4 separate regions of the Homo sapiens genome follow, and all the other regions are linked to region 3. The links come from fine-mapping of genetic effects on gene expression. A gene starts in region 3. Each other region holds a variant in brackets. All regions are shown on one strand. Distances are from middle to middle. Region 1 has its middle 91 kb from the start of LINC02628. Region 2 has its middle 32 kb from the start of LINC02629. Region 3 holds the start of NRP1 (neuropilin 1). Region 4 overlaps LINC02628 (long intergenic non-protein coding RNA 2628).

Evidence for each region. PIP is the estimated chance that this variant, and not a neighbour inherited with it, causes the effect.
Region 1: its variant is fine-mapped to the expression of NRP1 in tibial artery (GTEx, PIP above 0.99).
Region 2: its variant is fine-mapped to the expression of NRP1 in whole blood (TOPMed, PIP above 0.99). The same link has a PIP of 0.9 or more in blood mononuclear cells, monocytes, monocytes after LPS, monocytes after Pam3CSK4 and monocytes after R848.
Region 4: its variant is fine-mapped to the expression of NRP1 in whole blood (INTERVAL, PIP above 0.99).

What each region holds. Positions count from the first base shown.
Region 1 is chr10:33,506,248-33,513,836 of GRCh38, reverse strand. No RefSeq gene overlaps it. Among named protein-coding and RNA genes, the nearest start is that of LINC02628, 91 kb to the left of the region's middle. The variant A/G (reference allele first, on the strand shown) is at 3,567.
Region 2 is chr10:33,868,240-33,875,828 of GRCh38, reverse strand. No RefSeq gene overlaps it. Among named protein-coding and RNA genes, the nearest start is that of LINC02629, 32 kb to the left of the region's middle. The variant T/C (reference allele first, on the strand shown) is at 4,113.
Region 3 is chr10:33,331,412-33,339,000 of GRCh38, reverse strand. It overlaps NRP1 (neuropilin 1), which reads left to right and starts at 4,334. Exons shown (of 17, transcript NM_003873.7): 1 at 4,334-4,691. The coding sequence starts at 4,619.
Region 4 is chr10:33,585,087-33,592,675 of GRCh38, reverse strand. LINC02628 (long intergenic non-protein coding RNA 2628) reads left to right here. Exons shown (of 4, transcript NR_187516.1): 3 at 1,907-2,054. Among named protein-coding and RNA genes, the nearest start is that of LINC02628, 12 kb to the left of the region's middle. The variant C/A (reference allele first, on the strand shown) is at 3,237.

The DNA.
Region 1 (7,589 bases), 170 kb before region 3:
ACAAAAAACCCTTCAAAAAATCAATGAATCCAGGAGCTGGTTTTTTGAAAGGATCAACAAAATTGATAGACCGCTAGCAAGACTAATAAAGAAAAAAAGAGAGAAGAATCAAATAGACACAATAAAAAATGATAAAGGGGATATCACCACTGATCCCACAGAAATACAAACTACCATCAGAGAATACTACAAACACCTCTACGCAAATAAACTAGAAAATCTAGAAGAAATGGATACATTCCTCGACACATACACTCTCCCAAGACTAAACCAGGAAGAAGTTGAATCTCTGAATAGACCAATAACAGGCTCTGAAATTGTGGCAATAATCAATAGTTTACCAACCAAAAAGAGTCCAGGACCAGATGGATTCACAGCCGAATTCTACCAGAGGTACAAGGAGGAACTGGTACCATTCCTTCTGAAACTATTCCAATCAATAGAAAAAGAGGGAATCCTCCCTAACTCATTTTATGAGGCCAGCATCATTCTGATACCAAAGCCGGGCAGAGACACAACCAAAAAAGAGAATTTTAGACCAATATCCTTGATGAACATTGATGCAAAAATCCTCAATAAAATACTGGCAAACCGAATCCAGCAGCACATCAAAAAGCTTATCCACCATGATCAAGTGGGCTTCATCCCTGGGATGCAAGGCTGGTTCAATATATGCAAATCAATAAATGTAATCCAGCATATAAACAGAGCCAAAGACAAAAACCACATGATTATCTCAATAGATGCAGAAAAAGCCTTTGACAAAATTCAACAACCCTTCATGCTAAAAACTCTCAATAAATTAGGTATTGATGGGACGTATTTCAAAATAATAAGAGCTATCTATGACAAACCCACAGCCAATATCATACTGAATGGGCAAAAACTGGAAGCATTCCCTTTGAAAACTGGCACAAGACAGGGATGCCCTCTCTCACCACTCCTATTCAACATAGTGTTGGAAGTTCTGGCCAGGGCAATCAGGCAGGAGAAGGAAATAAAGGGTATTCAATTAGGAAAAGAGGAAGTCAAATTGTCCCTGTTTGCAGACGACATGACTGTTTATCTAGAAAACCCCATCGTCTCAGCCCAAAATCTCCTTAAGCTGATAAGCAACTTCAGCAAAGTCTCAGGATACAAAATCAATGTACAAAAATCACAAGCATTCTTATACACCAACAACAGACAAACAGAGAGCCAAATCATGGGTGAACTCCCATTCACAATTGCTTCAAAGAGAATAAAATACCTAGGAATCCAACTTACAAGGGATGTGAAGGACCTCTTCAAGGAGAACTACAAACCACTGCTCAAGGAAATAAAAGAGGACACAAACAAATGGAAGAACATTCCATGCTCATGGGTAGGAAGAATCAATATCGTGAAAATGGCCATACTGCCCAAGGTAATTTACAGATTCAATGCCATCCCCATCAAGCTACCAATGACTTTCTTCACAGAATTGGAAAAAACTACTTTAAAGTTCATACGGAACCAAAAAAGAGCCCGCATCGCCACGTCAATCCTAAGCCAAAAGAACAAAGCTGGAGGCATCACACTACCTGACTTCAAACTATACTACAAGGCTACAGTAACCAAAACAGTATGGTACTGGTACCAAAACAGAGATATAGATCAATGGAACAGAACAGAGCCCTCAGAAATAATGCCGCATATCTACAACTATCTGATCTTTGACAAACCTGAGAAAAACAAGCAATGGGGAAAGGATTCCCTATTTAATAAATGGTGCTGGGAAAACTGGCTAGCCATATGTAGAAAGCTGAAACTGGATCCCTTCCTTACACCTTATACAAAAATCAATTCAAGATGGATTAAAGATTTATACGTTAGACCTAAAACCATAAAAACCCTAGAAGAAAACCTAGGCATTACCATTCAGGACATAGGCGTGGGCAAGGACTTCATGTCCAAAACACCAAAAGCAATGGCAACAAAAGCCAAAATTGACAAATGGGATCTAATTAAACTAAAGAGCTTCTGCACAGCAAAAGAAACTACCATCAGAGTGAACAGGCAACCTACAACATGGGAGAAAATTTTTGCAACCTACTCATCTGACAAAGGGCTAATATCCAGAATCTACAATGAACTCAAACAAATTTACAAGAAAAAAACAAACAACCCCATCAAAAAGTGGGCGAAGGACGTGAACAGACACTTCTCAAAAGAAGACATTTATGCAGCCAAAAAACACATGAAGAAATGCTCATCATCACTGGCCATCAGAGAAATGCAAATCAAAACCACTATGAGATATCATCTCACACTAGTTAGCATGGCAATCATTAAAAAGTCAGGAAACAACAGGTGCTGGAGAGGATGTGGAGAAATAGGAACACTTTTACACTGTTGGTGGGACTGTCAACTAGTTCAACCATTGTGGAAGTCAGTGTGGCGATTCCTCAGGGATCTAGAACTAGAAATACCATTTGACCCAGCCATCCCATTACTGGGTATATACCCAAAGGACTATAAATCATGCTGCTATAAAGACACATGCACACGTATGTTTATTGCGGCACTATTCACAATAGCAAAGACTTGGAACCAACCCAAATGTCCAACAATGATAGACTGGATTAAGAAAATGTGGCACATATACACCATGGAATACTATGCAGCCATAAAAAATGATGAGTTCATATCCTTTGTAGGGACATGGATGAAATTGGAAACCATCATTCTCAGTAAACTATCGCAAGAACAAAAAACCAAACACCGCATATTCTCACTCATAGGTGGGAATTGAACAATGAGATCACATGGACACAGGAAGGGGAATATCACACTCTGGGGACTGTGGTGGGGTCGGGGGAGGGGGGAGGGATAGCATTGGGAGATATACCTAATGCTAGATGACACATTAGTGGGTGCAGCGCACCAGCATGGCACATGTATACATATGTAACTAACCTGCACAATGTGCACATGTACCCTAAAACTTAGAGTATAATAAAAAAAATAAAAATAAAAATAAAAAATAAAAAAAATAAAAAGAAGGAAAAAGAAAAAAGAAAAAAAAAAAAAAAAAAAAAGATGCCCTGTGGGTGGATCACCTAAGGACAGGTGTTCGAGACCAGCCTGGCCAACATAGTGAAACCCTGTCTCCACTAAAAATACAAAAATTAGCCAGACATGGTGGCGAGCATCTGTAATCCCAGCTTCTTGGGAGGCTGAGGCAGGAGAATAGCTTGAACCTGGGAGGTGGAGGTTGCAGTGAGCCGAGATCACCCCATTGCACTCCTGCCTGGGAGTGCAACAGAGTGAGACTTGGTCTGAAAAAAATAAAAAATAAATAAATTTTAAAAGATGCCCTGAAGAAGGATCGGGGGTTCAGTTTATCCAAGAGAGCACTAACTTTTGGGACTAATTTTCCAAAAGCCAAAAGCCAAAAGCCTTCTTGGCAAAATCTCAGCGCTACCTCTTATAACCCTGCCAAACAGTCTTAGTGCTTTATTTTCTGTCTAGGGACCATCTATACTTTTTACCTAAAATGGAAGTGTATTTGTTCAGCAAACATTTGCTGCACACTTACTCTGTAT[A/G]GAGTTTTAGAGGAAAACAAGGAAACAGAAGAAATCACATCTTTAAAAGGCTCACAGTTTAATTCAGAGACTTGCAGCCGTACCTTAGAGTTAGGCTAAGAGGGTTCACAGTGACCTTGGTTCCTGCTACTCATCTTCCCTTCCTAGTTATTTCTCTTTGCATCCCTCCTTTGCTAAAGTCTGGAGCTCTCTTGCTGCTCTCTGTCCATCTAAAGTAGCCTTTTGCATTCATTTACATAGACACATCTTTTGATGTTCCATGCTCCAAAACGAACTCTCGTGTTTTTTTCCATATCCCTAATAAGGACTCCCATGCTACAGAGTCTGACCCTAAATGTCTAAAGAAAACAGTCTTACGTGGGGATAAGGTGAACAAGATTAATAGGCTTAATTCTCCCCTTTCCCACCTCTCACTTAGGGAGGATTTATGTTTTAAATAACCTTTACACATGTAAATTAATTAGTCTGAAACAGTGTCATTGGTGGGATGTGTGAGCAGGGTGCTTGAGTGTCGCTTTCTGTTCTGATCGTGTGCTGACCTCCATGCTAAACTCTGAAATCACACATCAGTATGGACTCATTGAATAGTTACATAGAAGGGCCTATCTAGAAACAAACAAATGAAAATTACGTGGAGTATACATGGCTTCATAACATTTGAGGGCAAGCAAAATACAGAGAAACAAATCAAGGAAAAGGTTTGTTGAGACAGACTCCCTGGGGTAGGAATGTTTTCATGTGGGTTTTCAAGGGGGTGACGTCATATGCAAACCCGATCCCACTTTTTCTCCTTTCTTAGAAGTTCTGAAAGAGAGATGAGAGTGCAGATATAGATGAGGATAGTCTGTCTAAGGATAATACCAAAGGTAAGTGTGCTTTGAGGTTTAAAATATTTGCTGGAAGCTATTTACTGACTGGTTACTAGGAGACAGCATGACTCATTGCTAACTTCCCCTCCGGGGCCAGCGTTCAGTCATTTATCACCTAGCACATTGGATCAAGACTGATAGAATCTTTAGAAAAAATTATGGAGTTCTCTATTCTAGTAAGGAGGCACTAAACTGTGGAAATAAAATGATCCCTGAAGATGAGGTCCACTGAGAAAGCATCCCGACATGTGTTCTGTATGTACTAACAGTCCAAGGATTAATGTGTGGTGGAGAGATATATACAAGATAAAATACAAACAACGTACATATTAAACAACTGTACAAAGCAATATTAAACCAACGTCAATAGTGAATACTGTATCTTCCCTGAGGACTTCCCCCCCGACCCCCACCCCAGTTTCTGAATGAATATATTTACATTATAACTCGGTATTCCTAATTTCCATGAAACAACACACTTAAATATTCCTTTAATAATCTTTCTAAAGATTCAAATAAGTAGAATAGATGAGGGTAGATTCCAAACAATCAGGTCTTTCAAGATAATTCATAAATTTAAATATAAATTCTAAGATAAATTTGGAAAATATTGAGGGTTGAATTGACATATGGGAAAAAATTAGTCAAATCATTTATACATTGCCCACAACCACAGGGGCATCACTATAATGTAAAGTTTATTGGAAAATTTTTTTTAGATAGAATCTCACTGTGTCACCTGGGCTAGAGCACAGTGGCATGATCACAGCTCACTGCACCCTCAACTTCCCAAGCTCAAGCCATCCTCCCACCTCAGCCTCCTGGGTAGCTGGGACTACAGGCATGCACTCCATGCCCAGCTAATTATTATTACTATTATTTGTAAAGATGGGGTCTTACAATGTTGCCCAGGCTGGTCTTGATTCCTGGACTCAAGTGATCCTCCTACCTCAGCTTCCCAAAGTGGTGGGATTACAAGTGTGAGCCACTGTGCCCAGCCTCATTGGGAATTTTTACAAAGAAATGTCTTGACATATTTCCATAACAACAACATCAGAATTGTCAGAGACAAAGCCTAGATAATATAAACTTCATCTGATAGGAGAAGGAAAGTATTTAAACATCAAAAGAATGGGAAATGATGTTTGTGCAGTTATGTTTGTGAGTGTGAGAGTGAGTAAGCGTGCAGCATATTGTAAAAATAAGCGAAAGGTGATGTGGCAAGAGTGTGTTTTGAAATATTTATTGAAGCTTTCACTCTGTGTTTTGCCTTGACCTTCGCCTGTTCAAAGAGGTATCAAGGTCCGTGCTGTGGTAGGGTTCCCTACTGTAAAAGCTGTCAAAATTCTGAGTCCATTGAGAAGATCGGTGGCTTAAGAAAGAGTGCAAAGTGCAGCTCTCTCACGGGGAGAGAAGAGAGAGTAAAAGACAGAGAAGGAGGGAGGGAGGAAAGAAGAGGAGATTGCATTTTCTCAGAGCAATTAAGATTTCCCTAGTCCAGGCCAGACACAGTGGCTCACGCCTGTAATCCCAGAAATTTGGGAGGCCAAGGCAGGTGAATCACCTCAGGTCAGTAGTTCAAGACTAGCCTGGCCAACATGGTGAATCCCCGTCACTATTAAAAATACAAAAGTTAGCCAGGCGTGGTGGCGCATGCCTGTACTCCCAGCTACTCTGGAGGCTCAGCTACTCTGGAGGCTCAGGTAGGAGGATCACTTGAACTTGGGAGGTGGAGGTTGCAGTGAGTCGAGATTGCGCCACTGCACTCCAGCCTGGGCAACAGAATGAGACTGTCTCAAAAAAAAAAAAAAAAGAAAAAAAAATTCCCTAGTCCAAGAGTATGAGGATCTGCTCCTGCTCCCTGAGGCCATGGCGGGACCTCAGGGAAGGTGAGTGTGTGATACACCTGGGGAAGTGCCCCAAGACTCTTGGTCCCAAGCTTGGTACAGAAGCCCACAGAACAGAGATTATCACGTGGCCAGGGACAATGTGCCTCTCAACAGGCATCAAACAGAGGGGCCTAGTCTATCCAATATCTTGACATGTCAGGCAGATCCCCAAGCCCTGCTCAAATCTGCTGAAGATGGTGATAGAGAAACCTCAAGAATGGTCAAGCTTTTATTTCCTCCAGCCCAGTGGGAAAAGGGCTTAGAGAGGATATTACATTGATTTATGGAAAATAAAGCATCTGAGTTTATAGACTAAGATTTATACCTGCTACAAAAGTATGAATCCTTTTATCCTATACATATATATACACATATATACTAGAGGGCACATGCTACTGAGACATATTGCTTGGGTTCAGATTTTGCAACACTAACTAGCTGCGTGTGATTTTAGGAAGTTTCTTAACCTCACTGGCCTCAGTTTCTGTGAAACTGAAATTAATCATAGCACCAATTTCACATGGTTGTTGTAAGAATGAGATGAGATCATCTGTATCTTTGGCACAGAACAAAGGCTGAACAATGATAAGCTATCATAATAATTATTATTATTATTTATTTTTCTTCCATAAATGTCCCAGTCACTACCTAAATGTGAAGGAGAGATCTAGTCCTAAAAAAAGGTTTCCATTGACAGCTCAAGTTATTCGTGGATTTTCTTTCATGATAGCCTTAAGAAATAAACAAATAGACAAAAGTCTCTGTTTTTCTTTGGCCCCTAGGTGACCACTAAATTACATGTGAAACAAAACATGTTCAAGAGAAATGTCCCTGGAAGAAAGGAATTTTTCCTAAATCTTAAATAGCAAGTTTCTTGAATCCTAAATAAGGGTAGTGTCACGCCTCTGCCAAGTAGGAATGTCAGTATGGGGGTAGGAAGTCCAGCTGTATCCTCCCATCAAATGGAAATTAGTTGGATTCCTGATGCTAAGGGTTCCCATGGGCTCTTCATATGACAGATAAGAGGACGAGGGGGGTGAAGAATTATTATTTATAAATAACACACCAGAGTGCCTGAGGTTGGCCAACCTTAAATTCAATGTTCAAAGTTTGGAGCAGGTGTCTACAAACTTTTATCCCTAAGCCACACTAAGAGGACTATTTATGAAATACATCTGTATCCTTGGATGGCTATGACAATTGGTAATGGTCATTGGGGTATTATACGAAATATGTTTGGTCTTTGTTCCCAGTTCCTGACATGG
Region 2 (7,589 bases), 540 kb before region 3:
CTCCTGACCTCAGGTAATCTGCCCGTCTCGGACTCCCAAAGTGCTGGGATTACAGGCTTGAGCCACCGCGCCTGGCCCCTTGTTTGAACTTTTTAGATTCATAGTGAACAGACAAGCTCAATGATGATTATGATAGTCATATCAGCTGATACTGTTATTGTGTGTTAATAACAACAATAGTAAAATATTTAACATTATTATGACGGCATATAGTAAAATACTTAACATTATTTAATTAACATAATTAAAATATTTAGCAATATGAACATTATTATTATATTAAATAGTAAAATATTTAACATAATTAAACACTGTGGTGCACTGAACATAGACCATCGGCCTTGCACCATACCAATTGCTTCAAAGCTGATGGTAAATGATTTCAAAAAGTTGAAGATCAAAGGATAAGAGAGGACACACGGTAAACGAGAAGTTTCAGAAGATGCAAGACAGGGGGGACTAGACATTGGAAATCTATGTGCCTTCAGGAAGAAATGACGATGAAAAGGCCTTTTAGTATTTCACAGACTCTGGACCCAGGGTAGGCTCAAGAACTGGCCAAAAAGCTATCTCTAAAGGCTGGAAATTCCATTTATGGATTGGTTAGAACCCCTCTTCCCCTTCCTCCCACTCAGTACTATTTTATTTTTTAAATTATGTACAAATATTGATTTGATAGAAACAGACTGTCTAGCACTATACTATGCATTAGGCATTCTTTTAATAACTTTACATAAATTATTGCTTTTAATTCTCACATAATTATTGTATGAGGTATGTGCCTTATTTTCCTCACTGAAGAAATGCTGATTGTTTGAGATGATGGATATGCTAATTACCCTGATCTGATCACTATGCATATATGCATCAAAATATCACTATGTATCTCATAAAGATGTATGATTTTTATGTGTGAATTAAAAAAATAAAGTATAAAAAAGAATGGAGAAGAAGAAAAAAGTTATAAGGCAGATAACTTATAAAACCTCAGACACTGACAAGTTAAAAAACTTGCTCAAGATTACATATCTAATAGGTATCATTAAAGCTAGGGATACAAAGCTAGGAAGTTGACTCCAGAGACTATGTTGTTAATAAATACAGTTTGCTACTTCACATGTCATGTTTATGCAATGGTTAGATGGCTTGAAATTATATGCTTTAGTATATCAGTATTTCATAAAAGCATTTTTCTCATAGATGCAATAAAAGTATTTAATAACAAAAGTTAAAGAACTTAGGAACAGAACTGATGGGAATATAGTTTGTTGTTGTTGTTGTTGTTTGTTCATTTTGTTTGTTTTGAGAGACAGAGTCTCGCACTTGTTGCCCAGACTGGAATGCAATGGCCAGATCTTGGCTCACTGCAACCTCCGCCTCCCGGGTTCAAGCGATTCTCCTGCCTCAGCCTCCCAGCAGCTGGCATTACGGATGCCTGCCATCACGCCCAGCTAATTTTTGTATTTTTAGTAGAGACAGAGTTTTTCTATGTTGGCCAGGCTGGTCTCAAACTCCTGACCTCAGGAGATCTGCCCGCCTCAGCCTCCCAAAGTGCTAGGATTACAGGCATGAGCCACTGTGCCCAGCCGGGAATACAGTTTCAAAGGGGCTAGATATAAGTCAAGTCAAAAATATAGATCACTGCAAATTGGCCCAATATCACTGGACCCAGGGGTAGTAGCTTGGACCTCTACTTAGATCTCATAACTCAAAATGAAGTTCTATGTCACTAAACCACCCATCTGGAGACTAGGCATGACCTGCCAAGCAGGGCACTGAAAATAAGCAGTCTTGTGACTTTGGGATCTGTGCTGCTGGGCCTATCTAGGAAAATAATGTGACTTCTTTGAAGTCAGGAACATGAAATTGCCATAAAAATCATCCTGTGACTTTCCGAATGATTTTAAATAATTAGGAATAAAATAAATGTAAAGTATTATACAGATTCTAAGTGTATCTTAAATGCAGATTCAGAAATAATACCTTGTTGTTCTTTTATATAAACATAAATATTATTTTGGGGATGATGACTCATAAAGTTGAAACGTTTGATTTCGGCCACATTTACTTAATTTGCTTTTAGAGCTGAAACAGAAAAATGGAAGATTCTTGACTTGATGTTGCAGTGCCCAGGTTATCTCTTCAGGATCAAACCTGATTTCATTATTGCATTTTTCGGGCTTGAAGGCTAAGGAATTACTCAGTATAAATTTTTTAATCCCTGGACCCCAAGCAGGCCTAGACTCGCCTCCTGCCTTTGATGACTTCCATTCGTCTTCCTCAACATGATGGAAATTTAACCAACCAGAATCATGTTGTAGAAACCAGATTATAAAAGTTTTTATACTGTTGGTGTCTTTGACTCTATAAAGATTGGCTTTCATGCCCAGTTTGGATTTGGCATTGGACTAGGAAGGACTGAACTCTAGATCCAGAGAAATCCTCCTGACTTCTCAACCACAAATTCATGTCAACTGAAATCTTAGAAGTGGCCACAGTCTGGTTTTGATACCTGCCAACATTTTCTTCAAGCAAGCCCTTAACCATGTTCATAACTCCCTTTCAAAACTACCCAGTCCTTGTAAGTCAATGAGACTAAATAACATCAGCTGCTGGCTTCAAGTCATTTCTCTGATGGTTGTATTAATATTTCTGTGTTCCCACCTCCTTTCCTGGGAAGCATCAACTCGCATGACTGGAGCTATTAGTTCCACCCAAGATTTTAGTCTAAGGCAAGCTATAGTCAGATGATGTGGAAGACAGATGTTTCTGAATCCGTATTCACAAGCTTCAGACTATATCAAACACCGAAGGAAAGACTTATTATTCTACCTCACTTACACATTCAGAATTTGGGTTCAGTTAAAGAGCGAGACACAGACAAGCCACCTGCCCATGGATAACAGAATACTCTGGCTTCCTTATCTCCCCTGCATTTCTCTGCTTCTGTTTATTGCTCCATTTTTCTTTCCGTCTCCTGGGAAGAATAGCTCAAGATGGTGATACTCTTATTTTGTTAAGTTTTCTCTGTTTTAGCAGAGCTCAGTTAAGGAGCTCAGCTCTTAGGTTTTTTATTTTAAATTGCTTTACCTTTGATCTGAATCTTGGCTTTATTTAACAGATTTAAACTACAACATTAGAATAATAACTCAATTCATATGGGAGGATTTTTTTGCCTCTAAAACAAGAATCCAATGGAAAGACACTGCTGTACACTCCCTAGTATGATTTGTTGTATGAAAGCTCTCTTTCGCCAACATTAATGTCTGCATTTCAAAATGACCTTTATTAGGTGTTTTCAAGCTGTGAGTCCTCTTTCCAACCTATTAGCCTAGCTTTAAGAGAAAATACTTTTGAGTAGGGGAAACCAAAGCTCCCAGACTCTCCATCTTTTGATTTGGGGTTCAAATAGTTAGGATTGAATCCAAAGTAGAAAACAAAGTTTTAGCTTAGCCATTCTTTCTTCTTTCTTTCTTTCTTTTCTTTTTTTGAAATGGAGTTTTGCTCTTGTTGCCCAGGCTGGAGTGCAGTGGTGTGATCTCAGCTCACTGCAACCTCCGCCTCCTGGGTTCAAGCTATTCTCCTGCCTCAGCCTCCCGGAGTAGCTGGGATTATAGGTGCCCACCACCATGCCCGGCTAATTTTTTGTATTTTTAGTAGAGATGGGGTTTCACCATGTTGGCCAGGCTGGTCTCGAATTCCTCACCTTGGGTGCTGGGATTACAGGTGTAAGCCACTGCACCCAGCCAAGCTTAGCCATTCTTTAATTACTTTCCCCCTCACCCTTAGAAACCCCAGAAATAGAGCTACAAGAAGCTGTGTAAGGATTGGAGTGACCTGTTGGCCAATATCTGTAGTTACATTTAACTTGACATTCTCCGGGCTGGGTGATTCTTTCAATAAAAGTCCCTGTTTGAAAACCTGGTGGAAGAAGGGGATGTCTTTAATTTGTCCCCCAGCACAGTTTATTTTATATGTGGTTACTGGTAAAGGTATTAACTGTTGTTATCAAGGAGTTGGTTTTCTCTTGCTTATCTACTTCCTCTGCTTCAGGAAACCTCACTTCTTATTAGTGAAAGTGTACTCACTTAAACAGAGGCTTGGGGAGAAAT[T/C]TGTGGTTTTCAAAGATCTATCTCTTGACCTTACTGCTAAATGTTTTTACTAAATCTTCCTACTGACATCTCTTCCTGATTTCCAGTTTCACTAGTCAAGCTAGCATCAGTGCACCTTAGGGGGAGGGGTGGGGCTGCCTGGAACATGAAGATGAAAGATTACCTTTCCTCTGTTATGTATCCCTTCTTTATTGTTGCACCCAGTCCACTCAGATTCTTACATTACAACATTAGGACTCCCTAATGAAGCCAGGAAGGAGATTTGTAATCTGAGGATATGGTCATATGACAGGGTGGACAGTGTGCATACCATCCTACCATGTGTCTCAGGGGCATGGGTCCAGCCCCATCATCAGAGGGAGAGGGCGCAAACAAACCATGATAGTGGTTGACAAGCAAATGCGGCTAAAATGAGCATCAAAAGCAGTGTTGGTGGAGAAAGAAGTAATACAAGGCAGCCTGCCAGAGGGGTGGTCGAAAGGGCTTAGGGCTGCATCCTTTCTCCTTTCATGAATTTGTGTACGTTTCTGCTAATTCAAGTGAAAGAGCAAGGGTATACCAGCTGGTTGTAAACAACATGTATATTTCCACCTCATCAACATGTATATTTCCACCTCATTTGCTTTCCCCATGGGAAGGCATATAGAGAAAGGGGAAGGGGGCAAGGTGGTAAATAATAGAACAAGAGCGAAGGAACTGATTCTTGGTTTTTATTTTATTTTATTTTATTTTATTTTAATTTTATATTTTATTTAATTTTTGAGACAGGGTCTCCCTCCCAGGCTGGAGTGCAGTGGTGTGATCACGGCTCACTCTAGCCTCCACCTCCTGGGCTCAAGCGATCCTCCCACCTCTGTCTTCCAAAGTGCTGGGATTATAAGCATGAGCCACCATGCCAGTCCCCCTGACTGTTTAAAACCCCTGGAGAAGGACTTGGTTCTGGTGTGGCTCCCCTGTATTCTCACGGCTATCTCCACAGCCCCCATGATAGCAGTTCCTTCCAGCTGCCATCTCCCATTCATCCAACAACATTGTCCTTAGAGGAAGGCCAAGCTCCTCTCCACTGTGCACAGGCCCTCATGACGTGGCTGCCCTTCTCTCCACAGCTGACTGTCCCCACACTGTTCTCTCAGGCACAGTCACATCCAACTGTCCTCCAGTTCTTCCTCACCTCCAGGCTTGTCCTCACCTCCAGGCTCCTATACATCCTTGATATTTCTTCTCCTCCCACAGCCCAGATCAGACCACCACTTCTGTTTTGCCTGGGGAAACTCATAAATGTGCAGTCCTCTCTTAGAGATTCTAATTTCAAAAGATCCAGAGAGAGATCCTGGAATATGTAGTTTCAAAGGCTTCCCTGGAAATTCTGAAAAAGCAGCTGAGCTTAGGAAAGATGTGTAGATATCCCTTCTCTGAGAACCTACCTTGGTCTGCCCCTCCCTCCAAGTCTGAGTTAAGTTCCCCTCCAAACTGCACTACACAAGTCTTTAATTGCAGGTCTCCTGAGTAGATATCCACTCCCGGAGAACAGAGACTCTGTCTGGCTTAGAAGTGGTTCGGGAAATATTCATTGAGTTACATTGAATTGAAACTGGTGAATGTTTCCTATCTTTTTCTCCCTCTCCTGCTCTAAAACAAGAACAAATTTTCTTTTGGCTAGTTCTTATTTGCTTTTAGAAGAACAGGATTTAAAACAAATAAGACACTAGAAAAATGACAAAGCTGTTCCTCCAAAATTCTTACGGAAATGGGTAATGTTGGTCTTTAGTTGGTGCTCAAATGTGAATGATACCAGGACCACACTTTCTTAAACTTTTGTGGGTTCTTCGGTAAATATTTACTGCAGTGAAATCTCTGCTTCTCATTTTAACCATCTTTTATATCAAGATGTGAAAGGCATCATGTTTTCTCAGTAAGAGGACTCACATGCTTGGTTTGTTTCCCTGTCTTCCCCCAGTGGTTTTTTTTTTTCTTTTCTTTTCTCTCTGTCTCTTACACACAAACACAATTTTCCGATAGATTCTGTTAGGACCAAGAAACAATAGCTGATCATTGTGGGATCCTCAGACCTGTGAGATGATGTAATCTTCCTTTGCTCCTACCTGTCCTGTACTTGGCACAGCCTTGCTTCTAGAAGTTTCCTCTAGTAAATTCATTTCATGGATGCTGAGAGAACCATCGCCTGTTATTGACTCTTGCTTCTCAGTAAGTATAAAAGAAACAACTTTATACTATTAGCTGTTATTTTTGTTGATGCAGATGCTATTATCTGATTTAAACATCGAAGGGATGATTTTATTTTGTTTGTGCCCTGGAGGCTAAAAAAAAAAAGAAAAAAACCCACAATAAGCCAGCATCATTTTGAAAAGGAAAGCATCCAATAATTAAATATACTTTCCCAGAGATGAGGAGCAGATGTTCTGTCTCTTTCATGGAGTGGGAGGGTGTGGAGACTTGAGGGAGCTGTACCCGGAGCACGTTTCATAGTCTTGAAAAGTCAGGGGGTTCAGGAAACTCCCTTAACATGGGAGGTCTGGTTGGGATAAACTAACAGCAACCCAAAAGGGAATTTACCACATTTTTGGCAATTGTATCATTTTAAATATTTTCTCCAAACTCCCAAGATGTAAAAGATCGTTATCACCACAAATTAATAGTTTTTGAAATTGGAGGACAAAAATCTTTTTTTCTTGGCTAAGACAATTTTACTAAGCAAATCCTTACAGCAATTTCTGAAACAGCCTACAATGCATAAGAAAAGTCAGGCCGGATGAAAAGCAAAGCGAAGTTTGGAGGAAAAATCATTCACAATGGTAGATAGAAAGAAGGAAAATTCTTTTTTATTCTATTTCATGTGAAGTGATTCTAAGACCATTAGAATTGCCTGAGAAGTCTTTTCAAACTCTCCTCCTGGTCATCCCTCTCCATCTTTTCACCCTCCTTCCCATACTCTACCAAAAGACCTGAGCTTCCAAGAGTGGGCAGATGTTATCTGAAAAGACTCCTTTTTGATTCCATTATGCTCTCTCCACCCCATCCAGACACTCCCTTTCTCAATTTTAGAACTAGTGCTATAAAATAGAAACTCTTTTTTTTTTTTTTTTAAGAGATGAGGTCTTGCTCTGTTACCCAGGCTGGAGTGCAGTGGTGCAATCATAGCTCACTGCAGCCTCAAACTTCTGGGCTCAAGCAATCCTCCTGCCTCAGCCTCCTGAATAGCTGGGACTACAGGTGCATGCTACTACACCCAGTTAGTTTTTAAATTGCGTATAGTTAGGGGTCTCACTATGTTGTACAGTCTAGTCTCAAACTCCTGGGCTCAAGCGATCCTCCTCCCTTGGTTTCCTTGGGATTACAGGCATGAGCAACCATGCCCACCCAAATATAAGCTTTTGAAGGAAGCACAGCTTCTTATGGCTCTTTTAGGGAAGAAGACTTGATTTCCCAGATATGTGGTCCTAGAGCCACCCTCTGAAC
Region 3 (7,589 bases):
AAACTGGTCTCTTCATTTCTTCCCTTGCTCCGCCCATAACCCATTCTACAGGCAACTGCCAGAGTCATCTAATAAAAATGCAAAATGAAATTACATCCTTTGAGAATAAATTCAACAATTCTTAACTGTTGTGGCCATTGTTTGATATTTTTAAAAATTATTTTTTATTGATTTAAAATTTTAGCTATTTACATAAAACTATGATTAAATATTAAGAGGCAGCCAGTTTTCTATTCTGGTTGTTCAAATTATATTTTAAAGATTGCCCTATTTAAAACAGTCCTTTCAAATTTTGAATATGTTCTCTCTAATGATGTCTCTATTGATTTGAAGAGTGTTTCTGTTGGTTATAATTATTTTAATTTTCCCAATTTAAAAGTAATCCAATGAAGGCAAAATCATTTAATATTATTATCTCAGAAAAATAATACAGTTTTCAAATATGGCTGTAACCTCTACTCTAGCAAATGTTTTGAATCTAGTGTGATTCAAAATTTAGCATTATCTTTCTTCATCTTGTTGGTTAGTAAATATACTGTATCACAAAAACTTCACATTGTAACTTTGTGTTAACGTTTTAGTTGGTAGTCGTTTCTCCAATATTTGAGGAATTTTCAAGGTAACTTTTAAAAGGCTAAAAAGGTAGAATCAGAAAGTGAAGATTCATTTGTTTATTTCCTTCCTTCTCTGTCAGTACAAATCAAGGAGATGGCCAAAAATGAGGCCCAGATGACACCTCTTGCATGACACAGTCACTTGACAGAATAACCACTAATAGGCTTATTTTAAACATTAGTTAATTAAAATTCCAACTTTTAATGTTTTTCCAGTTTCACTTCATCTATTCATACATCTCAAAACTAGGTTAGCTCCTACTAAAAATATGGAGCTTGTATTGCTTTTCTGAAATTTATGGGTTTGATGTTTTCAAAAAACTTGACTAGATATGATGCAGTTTGAACTACCAACCCGAATCTCCATATTGCATGAATCTGAAGTACTTTGAGGGAGTTAGTGGCTCAAATGGCCTTCTGGGAGCAATCGATTTCATCTATTTCTGACAAAGGGATGAGAGCTTGATGAAAGGAATCGAGCAGTTACCATCCAGTCTACTCTTACTGATGGGCCACGGTTCCAATCCGACTCAGGGAGCCCCAGCTGAAGGCCTTATTTCTGCAGCACCTCCTAAGTGGGAGTCCAGGAAACTGGGCTTTGCCCACTCACAGCCTCTGCAGGGCGTTCTGGGGGTGCGGTAGAGGACTCTTCCCTTCCCTGGAACTGGGTCCTACCAAGTCCAGGGATTTGTTCTATCAGGAAGAATAATGTGTTCAAGAGACCAAAATAAAATCAACCCGGGAACACTGCCAAATTCTTCCTCTGCCTATCACTTATTCTCGTATAGAGCCGGCCTGTCTCCACGCTGGGGAATTGCAAAAATCTAAAACTGACCCCTCTCACCACTTAGTGGAATCCAACAGCAAAGGAAAAAGGTTGTTAGCAAGGACAATTTGCTCTGTACCAACCCACTGGCCGGCAATTCTCAATCAGTGCGGTAGGGCTCCATTACCCAGCACTGTGAGTGGAAACTAAGGAGTCTAGAAAAACCTTAGATCAGCTAAGAGCAGAGAAATCAGAGGCAGAACTTAAATATGACATTTCCTTCTGAGTCCATAGTGCATCCCTTATTCACTGGTTGGAGAAAGCTGGCAAAAGCGCTCAGCTGGAGGCAGGCGTTTTCTGTGCGTTGAGGCGCCGGAGGAGCCATTCCCTTCGGGAAAGACAAGGTCGGGGTGGGGGCAGTCGCTCCGGAGTGCACGATCCGGTGGCTTTATTTGCTGGCCTGGCGGGTCTAGGCTGGAAAATGCACACTCAGCAGGGAAAGGGGAAGAGAGATTGGCGGCAGTTTTCTAAAAACAACACAGCTCAAGTCTCCCTCGTGTGCCCCCTCGCTCACCCCGCCGAGGCTCAGAGCTATCCAAACGGGCGCTCCGGAGCGAGCGCGGAGGTCGGGTCCCCCCAGGACGCAGGCGGGCCTCCGAGACTCCAGGCCGCCCCGGCCGCCGCTCCCTCCCGGTTCCCCTTCCCTGTCAACCTGCCAGGTCCTGAGAGGCGCCTCTCCCTCCGAGCCTGGACCGAGGTCGCTCCGGGTCACCCTAAATCTGATGATGCCGCTCGCCCGGCGCAGCCGGGGGCTGGGACTGGCGGGGCTGCACCTGGGGAGGCGGCGACCGCGCGCGGGTAGTAGCCGAGAGCCCAGGCTGCCTCTGCGGCGCTCACTCCCCCGGGGTCTGCGCTGGGCGCGGTCGGCGCCCCCGCCTCGCCTCCCGCCTGCCCGCCTGCCCGGGCGCAGGGCTGCCCATGGCTTCGACAGTGCTCCTTCCGCTCAACTTAGGCATTTAACTCCCAGCCCTTCGGTGCCCACTTCCCACCCCGCGCCTCCCAGGGGTCCGACAGCTGAGAAGAAGGAGGAAACTGGCAGAGGAAAGAGGCGCTCGGGGGGGCCGAGTTTCCAACTTGGCGACTGGGAATCCCGAGGCGCGTGGGGAGGAGAAGACAGGCTTGACCCGGGGCAAGAGAGTGGCGAGTGCGGGCTCCGTGGGTGCACCTCCCACTGGCCCGGGAACGGCCTGCACCCCGAGGGGCGCACGTCACTGCTCCCAGCCCGAGTCGCGAGCGCGCAGTCCTGGCCTGGGGCCCGCGCGCCTTGGGCTTTCTCCCTGCCCGCCCCTTTTTCTTCCGCCAAAACCTTTGACCAGAGTCTCCTTGCCAGCATTCCTACCTCCCTTTGGCCAGCTATTTGTGCCAGGTAGGAATCAGGCTGTACTTTGGCTGTGTGTGTAGACGCCAATCCCCAGGAGGCGTGTGACCTTTTCACCTTACCCACAAACTCCCTGGGAGGTGCCCCGTGGGCACTGACCCTTCTCCGGGGCCTGATCGGTGACCGCAACCTGTTTCTTCCCAGAAATGTCCTTGCTTTTCGCATCTACAAACGCTTCCTGCAGCACTTCTCGGAAAACCCTCGGGGACGGGCCTGGGGGGCATCCAGCGGGCTGGGGGCACGAGCCGCTGTGGGAAGTGGGGGTGGCAGGAGCTCCAGGGCCGGCGTGCACGTTGTCTGTGGCCGGGAGCGGACACTGAGAGGGCGCAGCGAAGAGCACCCCTCCCCCGCCACTCTTTCCCTCCCTCGGGATGCACAGAGAAACGGGGGCCGCCCGACCCCTGATTTCCACACCCCTCCCTAGCACCTGGGCTCCCAGACAAGGTTGGGCGGGGTCGGGCGGCGATTGCCCCCCTGCTTGGAAGGCGCAGCACCTCCCACCCTCCGGTGTTCCCTCTGCCCCAGAGGAACGGGCACCAAATCTCGGGAAACAATGAAGCCTCCGCGGCGCGCAGAGGGCACCCAGCCGCGCGCCCTGATGCGGGCCAGGGAGGCCGCGTGGGGCTGCAGCCCGGCCTCGCCCGCCCAGGCGGTCTGTCTTCGCTTCACACCACAGCGACACTGCTGCCCCTCGCCCGGCTTCGCGGTGCGGCTCCCACTCCAGCCCGGCTTTCCCCTCCTCGCCCTCCAGCTCTGGGCAGGGGCGTCCAGGGGTGCCCCGCTGCTCCCCGCCACAGGTCTCAGGATGGCGCGATGAGGAGTGGCAGGGGGTGACCCTGCGTTCCTCGCCGCCGAGGGCGCGGGCCCCGGGATTTGAAGTTGCGAGAAGCAGCCGCCACCTCCCGGGCGCTCCGCACTGCGCGGCGGCGGGATCTGCGCCTGCAGGAGCTGCCCAGCTCTCCCTCTAGGGGTGCAGAGCGAGCACGCGAGGTGGGCTGGCCAGACCCTGCGGCTGGCACTGACCTCCGCGCCCCTTCCTCCGACGCCCGCACCCACGCGACCGGGGCGCAGACTCCCAGCGCCTTCCTTCCCGCGGAGATCCCTGCAGGGTCTCTGGGAAAGACAGACAGACGGACGGGGAGAGCACTCGGAGGGAAAGTTGTTCCTCCCAGTCTCCTGTCAGGCAATTACAGGCGAGCCCAAGCGGGGAGAGGGGCGGGAGGAAGCGAGGGAAGGGCTCCGGAGTGGGGGGAGGCCGCAGGAGGGGAGGCGGGGGTGCAGTTGGTGAAACTCCTCTGTCTCCCGCTCATCTTTTCATTGCTCGTTCCCCTCCTTCCCGCAGACACCCGGACCTCCCCTGGGCGCCAGCTCCGCGGCTCCAACGGGTCCAGAAACAAGCCGGATTTTTTTTTTTTCTTCCTGGAAATTGGCTTTGGTGTGTGTTGCCCTACCTCCCTCCTCCCCCTCCCACCCACAGCCCCCCCCCGGCCTTTTTTTTTTTTTTTTTTTTTTTTGAGACATGGCCCGGGCAGTGGCTCCTGGAAGAGGAACAAGTGTGGGAAAAGGGAGAGGAAGCCGGAGCTAAATGACAGGATGCAGGCGACTTGAGACACAAAAAGAGAAGCGTTCCTCTCGGATCCAGGCATTGCCTCGCTGCTTTCTTTTCTCCAAGACGGGCTGAGGATTGTACAGCTCTAGGCGGAGTTGGGGCTCTTCGGATCGCTTAGATTCTCCTCTTTGCTGCATTTCCCCCCACGTCCTCGTTCTCCCGCGTCTGCCTGCGGACCCGGAGAAGGGAGAATGGAGAGGGGGCTGCCGCTCCTCTGCGCCGTGCTCGCCCTCGTCCTCGCCCCGGCCGGCGCTTTTCGCAACGGTAAGTGACAGGCAGAGGCGCGGGTGACAGCGGCGCCCCGGCTCCCAGCTGCCCGCCCCGGACCGGGGCTCAGGCGGGGCTTCCCGGGATCAGCCGGGAACAACCGACTCCCGGGCGAAGGAAACTTTTATCTGGGAGGAGAGAAGAAGAAATGAGATCAGGCGGTTTAGAGCAGGAGGATTTCAGGTCTTTGGGCTCCCTCCTGACGTTGATCCTTGGGCTGTGGGGCTTTTCCTTACCTCTGTTACAAGACAGAGCTGTCTACCTTCCCAGATCAGCATGCCAATTATCTTAATAATGTTTCCTCCCAAAGGCAATTAGAAGAGACTCCCTTTCAAAAATCTGATGGCTGTTGAAAGTTAATGAACACTTTACCAGGAGATCTTACTTCCTGGTTCCTTTGCTGCTCCCCTAAGCCGTTTCCTCTGGTGGGTGACGGCCAGAGATATCGGTTTGTGGGTTGATGAAACTCCCTCCCCCGCCTTTGTACACCTTCCGTAATCTGTCTGGAGTATGACTGAAAGTTACATAGTATCAATACAGGAATCTGACATATACAGTGTAAGGCACCAGGATATCTGAAAATCCCTAAGCTAGTTGCAGCTTCCACTTAGCTTTTAAAATCACTCACTGTTAAGTAAATGAAAAACTATACTGGGGTCTAAACAGTACCATGTAACCTAAATAATGTGTTTTAAAATGGGATCTGGTTGTAGGCATGTTTGACTTCACACTGTAAAGTAAGTGCAGGCAAGGGTATGCAATTATCTTTACAGTAAGTCGTCAGCAATTGTTATTAACTAATGATCAAATATTTACTTTTGTCTGGCTTAGATTTCAATCACAGTAATTAGAAGAAAAGAACATCCACTACTTACTGTGGTATATTGTTTTAATAAGAGACCGCAAGTGGAGGGCCTCATACCAACAGGAATTTAAATCACATCTTTATGATGGAAGTTAATCTCTCTAATATGCTTTTTCAAGGTTTTGTGATTTTAGCAATGGATTTCCCTCAGCAGCTACCAAGCAGTATTTTAAGAGATGCTTAAAGCAAAACACATGCAAAAAAAAAAATTATGAACATGGAATTCAGCTTATTAATGAGCCCAAGTTGATGGCATTTTTCTATAATCTGGCAGGAAAGCAAGACACAAAAAATTATGAATGTAGAATTCAATTTATTAATGAACCTGAGCTGGTAGCATCTTTCTATACTCTGGCAGGGAATGAAATAGCATTCTCGTCCAACTGAAAGAGCTCAAATGGTTGGACTAGAAATTATAGTAACCCTGTCCTCCACAACTCTTGAGACTAAATCCATAGTGGGGGTGTTCACAAGATAGATTTGAAGCTCAATGCAAAGAGCTATCAGACTTTAGGTTGTGAACTACACAAATATATATGCAGTACACACACACACACACACACTTCTTAGTTTTCTTAGCAGAAATCTGGGGAATGCTGAAAATCTGGCTTTAGTTGTTGAGCTTTACCAGCAAAAGCCATGTCGCTATGCTTGAAGTGACCAGAGCCAGAAAATGCCTCTGTAACTCAGCAGACCTCTCAAAGCCATGTCCACCTCCTCTGAGTAACCAGTGTCTGCTAAATTAATTCATTAACCTTATTTAGGACTAATGGTCCAGAGTCATTAGAAACTGCTCTTTCTTAATCAACTGCTAGAGAGATTGAACAGAGCCAGGGAGTCTAGCAGTCCACATTATCTTATTACACTGTCACTTTCTCAGAAGTCACAGATTAAAGAGCTCTGGTGTGGTACCAAGTCCACCTAAATGTCTTCTGAAGTGACTCTGTCGAGTGACTAGAACCAGTGCTGTTTTATTTCACTCCTGTAACAGATGCCAGACACTACCATGATGTTTGTCCAGAGCTAGAGGAAACTTAATGAGACGAGGTCACTTTCCAAGTTTTCTGCACATTCAAAATAATGCAAGAGTCTCAGCAGAATCACATAACAGAGTCCAACATGATCATTAGCTGAGATTTTGAACTCCAGTTGCAACATCATTTCTTCCTGGCAAAGCTTACACTTTTACAAGCCAGTGCAAAGGAAACCAGCATAAGACTACCCCCAGTCTAAGGAACAAAGTCAGAAGCACCTAGCGATTGAGAAAAACAATATAACTTATATTGTCTTCTTTTTTTAATTTATGGGAAATGATTTCTGTAATGCATGTAGCTTTATGCATTTTTGATGTGCACTTCATCTTTCATTTCCATTTGACCTGGTTTTCCTGTAATAAAATTCTGTAGATTTATAAATTCATGCTGAGAGCAAAGAATGCCATTCTCTTTCCACAGGGAATCTATTAGATGCAGTGTTAAAATCTACATCTACCATTACTGAAAATTTGTGATTGATAGGCTTATATATTTCACTGTTTTCATACCGTTTCTCTTATATAGTTTATGCACCGAATTTTTATTGCTCAAAATTAAGCATCAATAAATGTGGCAGCATTTCAGGCTGAGGTGCTCCAGTATGAAATCCATCATAAAATGTGACAATGAGAATCTATGCTGAACAATATAGGCAGCCCAGAGACTGGTTTACTTGGTTTATTTGGCTTCACTTGAGCATTTTTGAAATGAAGGCTCAAAACTACTTAGCTCACCTTTCCCAGAATGTGAGAATGTGGGTTACCATATGTGATACCCAGACCTGTGTGGTGGGTTATTTTTCACCCAACATTTAGGTAATTAGAATTAATGCCATGTGGCTATTTACTTTTCCTTCTGCCCCGTTGCTTTGATCCGATCTCCAAGCTTGAACAACTTTACTTGGAGAAGTAAAGCAGAATTATTTCTGCTTCACCAAATATACTTTGTTCTCTGTTGATTTGGATCTCAAGAGCAGAGATAACTCAAAATCACTTA
Region 4 (7,589 bases), 250 kb before region 3:
AGCAAATAAAGGGAGTGGTCTTGATCTGGTTACCATTCCAGAGTCAATTTCCAGCAAATGCAAGGCTGCTAAATCCCAATGGTGAAGATCTTATGAATTCTGTGGGCTCTGTCCAGAGGAAAGAAACAAATAGTTTCTAGTAACCTATGGAAACAAGAAAGGGACCTTGTAAAATTAGACTATGAAATTTAAGGACCCTCAATGTGCTTCTGAAAGACAGAGCACTATTTTGCTCTGAATCCTTCATGAAATTACAAAAATATTCAACCAGAGCAAAAGAAACCTCCCCATTTTTCAATACAATCCCCTTGACTATTGAGAGACAGGACTAGCTGGATTTCCTAGGCCGACTAAGAATCCCTAAGCCTAGCTGGGAAGGTGACCGCATCACCTTTAAACACGGGGCTTGCAACTTAGCTCACACTCGACCAATCAGGTAGTAAAGAGAGCTCACTAAAATGCTAATTAGACAAAAACAGGAGGTAAAGAAATAGCCAATCATCTATTGCCTGAAAGCACAGTGGGAGGGACAATGATTGGGATATAAACCCAGGCATTGGAGCCAGCAACAGCTACCCTCTTTGGGTCCCCTCCCTTTGTATGGGAGCTCTGTTTTCACTCTATTAAATCTTGCAACTGCCCACTCTTCTGGTCCCTGTTTGTTACGGCTTGAACTGAGCTTTCGTTCACCGTCCACCACTGCTGTCTGCCGCCATCGCAGACCTGCCACTGACTTCCATCCCTCTGGATCCAGCAGGGTGTCCGCTGTGCTCCTGATCCAGCGAGGCACACATTGCTGGTCCTGATTGAGCTAAAAGCTTTCCATTGTTCCTGCACTGCTAAGTGCGCAGGTTCGTCCTAATTGAGCTGAACACAGTCACTGGGTTCCACGGTTCTCTTCTGTGACCCACAGCTTCTAATAGAGCTATAACACTCACTGCATGGACCAAGATTCCATTCCTTGGAATCCGTGAGGCCAAGAACCCCAGGTCAGAGATCAGGAGGCTTGCCACCATCTTGGAAACGGCCCACCGCCATTGTGGAAGCGGCCCACCACCATCTTGGGAGCTCCAGGAGCAAGGACCATCTGGTAACACTATGATTTCTAAATGTTGACATCTAGGAAGAAAAACAGAGTACCCATAGTAAAAAGTCCAGCAGGGCAAGCTTGACACATTCTGGGCATGCAGGAGTCTGATGGATGTCTAACTCCTGCACTGGCTGAGTTCTAATGAGGCAGGAACCGTTGGTAGACTTATTGAGTAATAGCATATCCCATCTCTGAGGGCACCTCCCAGGACAGAAGCTCCCACCACTGTCCATAGTGACCATCAGCCCAGCTTTGACAGCTCTAGTCATTAGAAAGTCCCTCCTTTTGTTAAGCTCTGATTAGCTAGCTGTGCCCCCCACCCCTTCTCAAAGCAGACATGAATTTTAAAATGTCTTTGCCCTGGAGCAAAAAGAATTCAGAAATAAATACTGGATTTGTCAAATTGAGATAAAAGGTTGATATGTATTCTCGACTGGCAATAGAAACAAATGTGCCCCATATATTCATGCTCATAAAAACATAGCTTCAGCCAATCTGAGCATTACATCAAGTTGAACCATATGAAATTGCCAATTTTGTTAGTCACACATGATTGACAATTGGCTACTTTTACATGATCCAACCTCCAACATGACAGTTAAGAGCACAGACTTTGGAGTCAGCTCTGCCACTTACCAGCCATGATAGTGGGCAAGTTACTAACTATTCTATCTTCATTTCCTCACCTAATAGGATTTATCTCATAGTATTAATCCTATTCTCACAACGCTTGTAAAAAGTGAATGAGTTAATACAAGTAATGCATTTAAAAGCGTTCTTGGCATATAGAAATAATTATTCATTCTCTTTTCATAGGACTTTGCGGACCCCAATTAAATAGTTTACCCTAGAAGAATAGAACCTATTTGGGGTGGGGTGAGTGGCTGCAAGAGGGACGTTTCCCCAGGACATCATGCACAAAAGGGGCTTCAAATGTAGTCTTTTGACTTATCTCCAAATGAAGGTAAATATACAGTAGATTTATGAATTATTGATTCATAATAAGTTATTAATTATTAACACTTAAATTTATCACAATATTTAGAGACTTGTTTTGGCATATCTTTCTTATTTAATACATTTGAATCTCAAAAAAACATACAACTGGCTCAAGCTTCTCAATCTCTGAAAGGCAGTAGACAATGGAACCGCTCAATGCCATTAACTTCTCTGTATTTCTCCTATTGAAAATACGAAAGGAGAACGAATGGTAAAAGGTAAAGGTAGCCGACTCCTCCCTTGTTAGAGACCTTGACCTCCACAAATAGGTTATTTCTACCTCCAGCTCAATGATCAGTTCAAGATTTTAGGGGTCTGTGGTCATGTGCACCATTGAGTAGTTTCTAGCACTGTCCGTGCCAAGAAAGGCAACCACGAGCTAATTCCCAAAATGTTTGTCAAAAGCCTTATTGAGAGAAGTCATATTTAGCAAAAAATAATTGGAGATCATACAGTATTCCATGTTCTCAGATGCTCTAAAATCTAACCATGGATTATGGCAGCTTGGTAAAGAACTGATGATTTATGTAGAATTGTAATGACTATCCCCAAATAGCTTCACTGAATTATGGACCTGTGTAATGGGTCAGTATGAGAGACAGTCCAGTGAAAGTCTTTGTTGGGTCTACTATGACAATATTGTTGCTGTTTCAAATGATGTCCACTTTATGCACAGAAGAAAATTCTTACTTCATCCTGGAACTGAGAAGTCAATTTTGTAAATTATTAGACTTCTGTTTTCAAGATAGCACTTAGAAACCTGAGAAACAAAAGCACAGTCCATTAAATACAAGTCAATTTTAAATAAAATTATTTAATAACCTTAAGATTATTACTACAAGTTCCATTTTATGTCTCCATCATTATTTTATTTTCTGTTACTTAAAAAAATTAGTCTATTGGTGTATAATATATATACAACAAAATTCACCAATTTGAAGTATAAAATTCAATGAGTTTTGACAAATGCATAAAGTTGGGTAACTACTACCTGTCAGAGCAGGAGCATCACCATTTTGGACAAGCACTGCCATTTTAAGCTTCACCTTGATCAAAAACTGCCTAAATCCAAAGGGCATCAGCCTAATGGCTAAGATCAGCATGACCATAAACCACAAATAACATCCCCTACCAGAGACATGCCAAC[C/A]CTGAGATAACCTCCCTTCCGGCCGGAAAGATGTCAGCCCCAAGATAACCTTCCCTCCACCCAGAGACATTCCAACCCTGTCAAAAACTTCTGCCCAACACAGAAACATTCCAAGCTTGTGATAAGCCCCGTCACCCTAAAACCAATATATACTGTTAGTCTGTAAGAGATAGTGCTCCTGACGGAAATTGGCCAGAAGCCCCTCTCAGGTTTATTCCCCAAAATAAACCTGTCTTTGACTGTTGAGCTGCTTTCTGTGTTCTTTCCTCTTTCTTTAACACCTATACCACCACCCTCATGATATACAGAACATTTCCATCATCCCCCCATTTCCCAGTGCTCATGTGTTGACAGTCTCCTTCCCCCAGCTCCAGGCCCTGGGAACCACTGATCTGCTACTCTAGTTTTGTCCTTTCTAGAATTTCACATCAATAAAATCATATAGTCTTTTGTGTCCGAACTCTTTCAGTTAGAATAATTGTTGTGAGATTTATCTGTGTTGTTGGGTATATTGGTAGTTCATTCCTTTTTATTGCTGAGAAGTAATTCCATTGTGTGACTATGCAGATATGCCAAAATTTAGGTTGATTCTAATTTGGGGCTACTATAAATAAAGCTGCTATGAACATGAATTCACTAGTCTGTGTGAATATATATTTTCCTTTATTTTGGGTAAATGCCTAGGTGTGAGATTGCTGGATTAAATGGCACCTGTATGTTTAACTTTATATGAAACAGCCAAATTGTTTTCCAAAGTGGTTGCACCATTTTGCATTTACTAGCAATACACAAGCATTCCAGTGGCTTCACATCCTTGGCAATACTTGGTATTGTTAGACTTTTTAATTTTAGATATTCTAGTGCATATGTAGTAGGATTTTATTGTGGTTCTAATTAGTATTTCCCAATGGCTATCAATATCAAACATATTTTCATGTTATTTGCCATTCATATATTTTCTTTGGTGAAATATCAGTTCAAAATTTTTGCCCTTCTTTTTTTTTAAAAAAAATGAAATTGGGCTGTGGTCTTCATATTATTGATCCGTAAGAGTTCTTTATCTATTATGCATATATTCTGGATATATGTTTTGCAAATATTTTCTCCCTGCCTGTGAATTTTCTTTTCATTGTCTTCGCAGTGTATTTTCAAAAGCAAAAGTTTTAAATTTCTTTCTTTTTCTTTTTTTTTTTTTTTTCCCAGACAGGGTCTGGCTCTGTCACCCAGGCTGGAGTGCAGTGGTGCAATCTCGGCTCACTGAAAACTCTGCCTCCTGGGCTCAAGTGATCCTTCCACCTCAGCCTCCCAAGTAGCTGGGACTACAGGTGTGTGCCAGCTAATTTTTTTTTTAACTTTTTTTAGAGAGGAGGTTTCACCATGTTGCCCAGGCTGCTCTTAATCTCTTGAGCTCAAGCGATCTGTCCGCCTCAGCCTCCCAAAGTGTTGGTATTACAGGCATGAGCCACTGAGCCCAGCTGCTTAAATTTCAGTTAAGTTTAATTTATCAAAATTTTCCTTCGTGATTTTTATGTTCTTAGAAATCTTTGCCTAACCCAAGGTAACAAGAAAACAAAATTTCCATATCCTCATCTGGAAATTTTATAGTTTTGATTTGTTATTTAGATCTATGATCCATTTTGAGTTAATTTTTGTATGTAGTGTGAGGTAAGAATCAAAGTTCATTTTTTGCACCTCGATATCCAATTGTTCCAGCATCATTTGTTGAAAAGAATCTCTCTCCCTATTGAGTGATCTTTGCACTGTTTTGAAAACCAACAGATCACACTTGTTCAAGCCATGGCCCATGGGCTGCATGCAGCCCAGGATGGCTTTGAATGTAGCCCAATAAAAATTCATAAACATTATGCAATTTTTTTTTTAGCTCATCAGTTATCATTAGAATTAGTGTATTTTATGTGGGACCCAAGACAATTCTGCCACATTCTGCCAGTGTGGCCCAGGGAAGCCAAAAGTTTGGACACCCCTGCGATAGGCCATGTAGACAGGGGTCTATTCCTGGATTCTGTACTGTTAGGCTGATTTCATTAATTTATGTGTACAGTTATGCACTGTATGTCATTTTTGCCAATGACAGACTGCATACTGGATGGTGGTCCCATAAGATTATAATACCATGTTTTTACTATACTTTCTTTTATGTTTAGGTATATGTAGATAAACAAATACTTACCATTGTGTTCCCATTGCCTACAGTATCCAGTACAGTAACATGATGAACAGGTTTGTAGTCTAAGAGCAATAAGCTAGACCTTATAGCCCAGGTATATAAGAGGCTCTACTGTCTAGGTTTGATAAGTGCACTCTATGATGTTCACACATACAAAATCAACAACAAAATCACCTACATATTTCTGAACATATCCTCATCGTTAAGCAATGCATGACCTTATATGTGATTGCTGTAGTCTTGAAATTAGGTTGTCTAAGTCCTTCAGCTTTGTTCCTTTTCTGAATCATTTTAGGTATGCTAGGTCCTTTACTTTTCTGTTTACATTTCAGAATTAGCTTGTCAATTAAAAAAAAAATTTCACATAGGACTTTGATTGAACTTACATTGACTTTCTATGGTAGCCATAAAATTGTGGCTTGCAGAGCTCCCACTATAAGGAGTGCAACCAGTGCCCCAGATGCTATGCTTTGAGATACATTGCTTTATTTTGGCCGGGGCCACACCTTACTTGGTCAAGACTGCTCCCTTGTCAAGGACTGAGCGTGGCAGGGCTACAAAAGCAGATTCATTTCTGGGAGACATTAAACTCCTCTTTTGGCAATGTAAACTCAAGGAATCCCTGCTGGCTTTGTTGAAGCTTCCTTAGACTGCATGACAGTCTAGGACAGTTCCACCCAACATTCTCTCCCTCTCATCTTCACTTAGATTCACACTTGCCTCCTAGCCTGACATCTTTCCCAGCCTTTTCCAGCTCTCACCCTCATTTTCTTTTCAAAAGCATCTTCCTTAATAAAATCCTTGAATATTACTCCTGTCAATGTCAGCTTCTCAGAGGATCTGGGTTAACACAAGTGGTACCAAGAGTGGTTTGAGAAAACAGACAGCAAGGTGGAGTTGTAAAATTAACTCACCTACTTGGCAGGTCAGAAGCACGTGTATGGTCCTGGTAACAAGATGCAGTCCAACTGCTAATATTTCACTGGTAGGGGGGCCTTGAAAATGTTCCTGTCAGGGCAAATGCTGCGATGGGTGTGATGATATCTGCATTTGGAAATATGAGGGAAACTTCTTATAAGTATAGTGCAATTGGGCCAGGTACAGTGGCTCACGCCTGTAATCCCAGCACTTTGGGAGGCCAAGGTGGGTGGATTACAAGGTCAGGAGATCGAGACCATCCTGGCCAACATGGTGAAACCCTGTCCCTACTAAAATACACAAAATTAGCTGGTGTGGTGGTGTGCGCCTGTAATCTCAGCTACTCAGGAGGCTGAGGCAGGGGAATTGCTGGAGCCCGGGAGGTGGAAATTGCAGTGAGCCAAGTTCGCACCACTGTACTCAAGACTGGCAACAGAGCAAGACTCTGTCTCAAAAAAAAAAAAAAAAAAATATATATATATATATATATGTATATAGCACAATTGGCTGGCTAAGGCTAAGTGCATTGACTGCATGTTAGTGGGGAATGAGAGACTGAGAGCCATTATTATGCACTTAATAGCTAAGTGTGGGAAACATAGAGACTGCAGTGGTAATGGTGGTTGCATATAAAGAACTCTTTACCACCTATAGCTGAAGGGCAGGCACAATAAAAGGCAAGCTCAAGACCTAATTATGAGGATCTCAGAGCACCAGAGATATTAAACACTCCTTTAAGCAGGAAATCTGGAGAGATGTCCTTAGTGATGCTGAATCTACAACATTCCCACCCCCATCCTCTGGGCATGGATGGGTGGCCCATCTTTCCCTAGTAAGAGCTAGCACTTTGACCATACTGAAAGATGCTGCAGAATCTTCCTCACCAAAAGACACAGACACAGCCCTTGAGACCTGTCTCTATCTCCATTCCTGCTCCCAGACTGATAGAGTGAAATTCTAAGATAACACATATATAGTCAGCGTGTGCCCTGTAAGGCAAGAAAGAGATCTACACAGAAAGAAATAAGACGTGGTGGGGCATGGTGGCTCATGCCTGTAATTGCAGCAATTTGAGAGGCTGAGGCAGGAGGATCCCTTGAGCTCAGGAGTTTGAGATAATCCTGGGCAACATAGGGAGATCTCATCTCTACTGAAATTCAAAAAAATTAGCTGGGCATGATGGTGCAGCTACTTGGGGGTTGAGGCAGGAGGATCATTTGAGCCTGGGAAGTGTAAGAGTTAAAGAA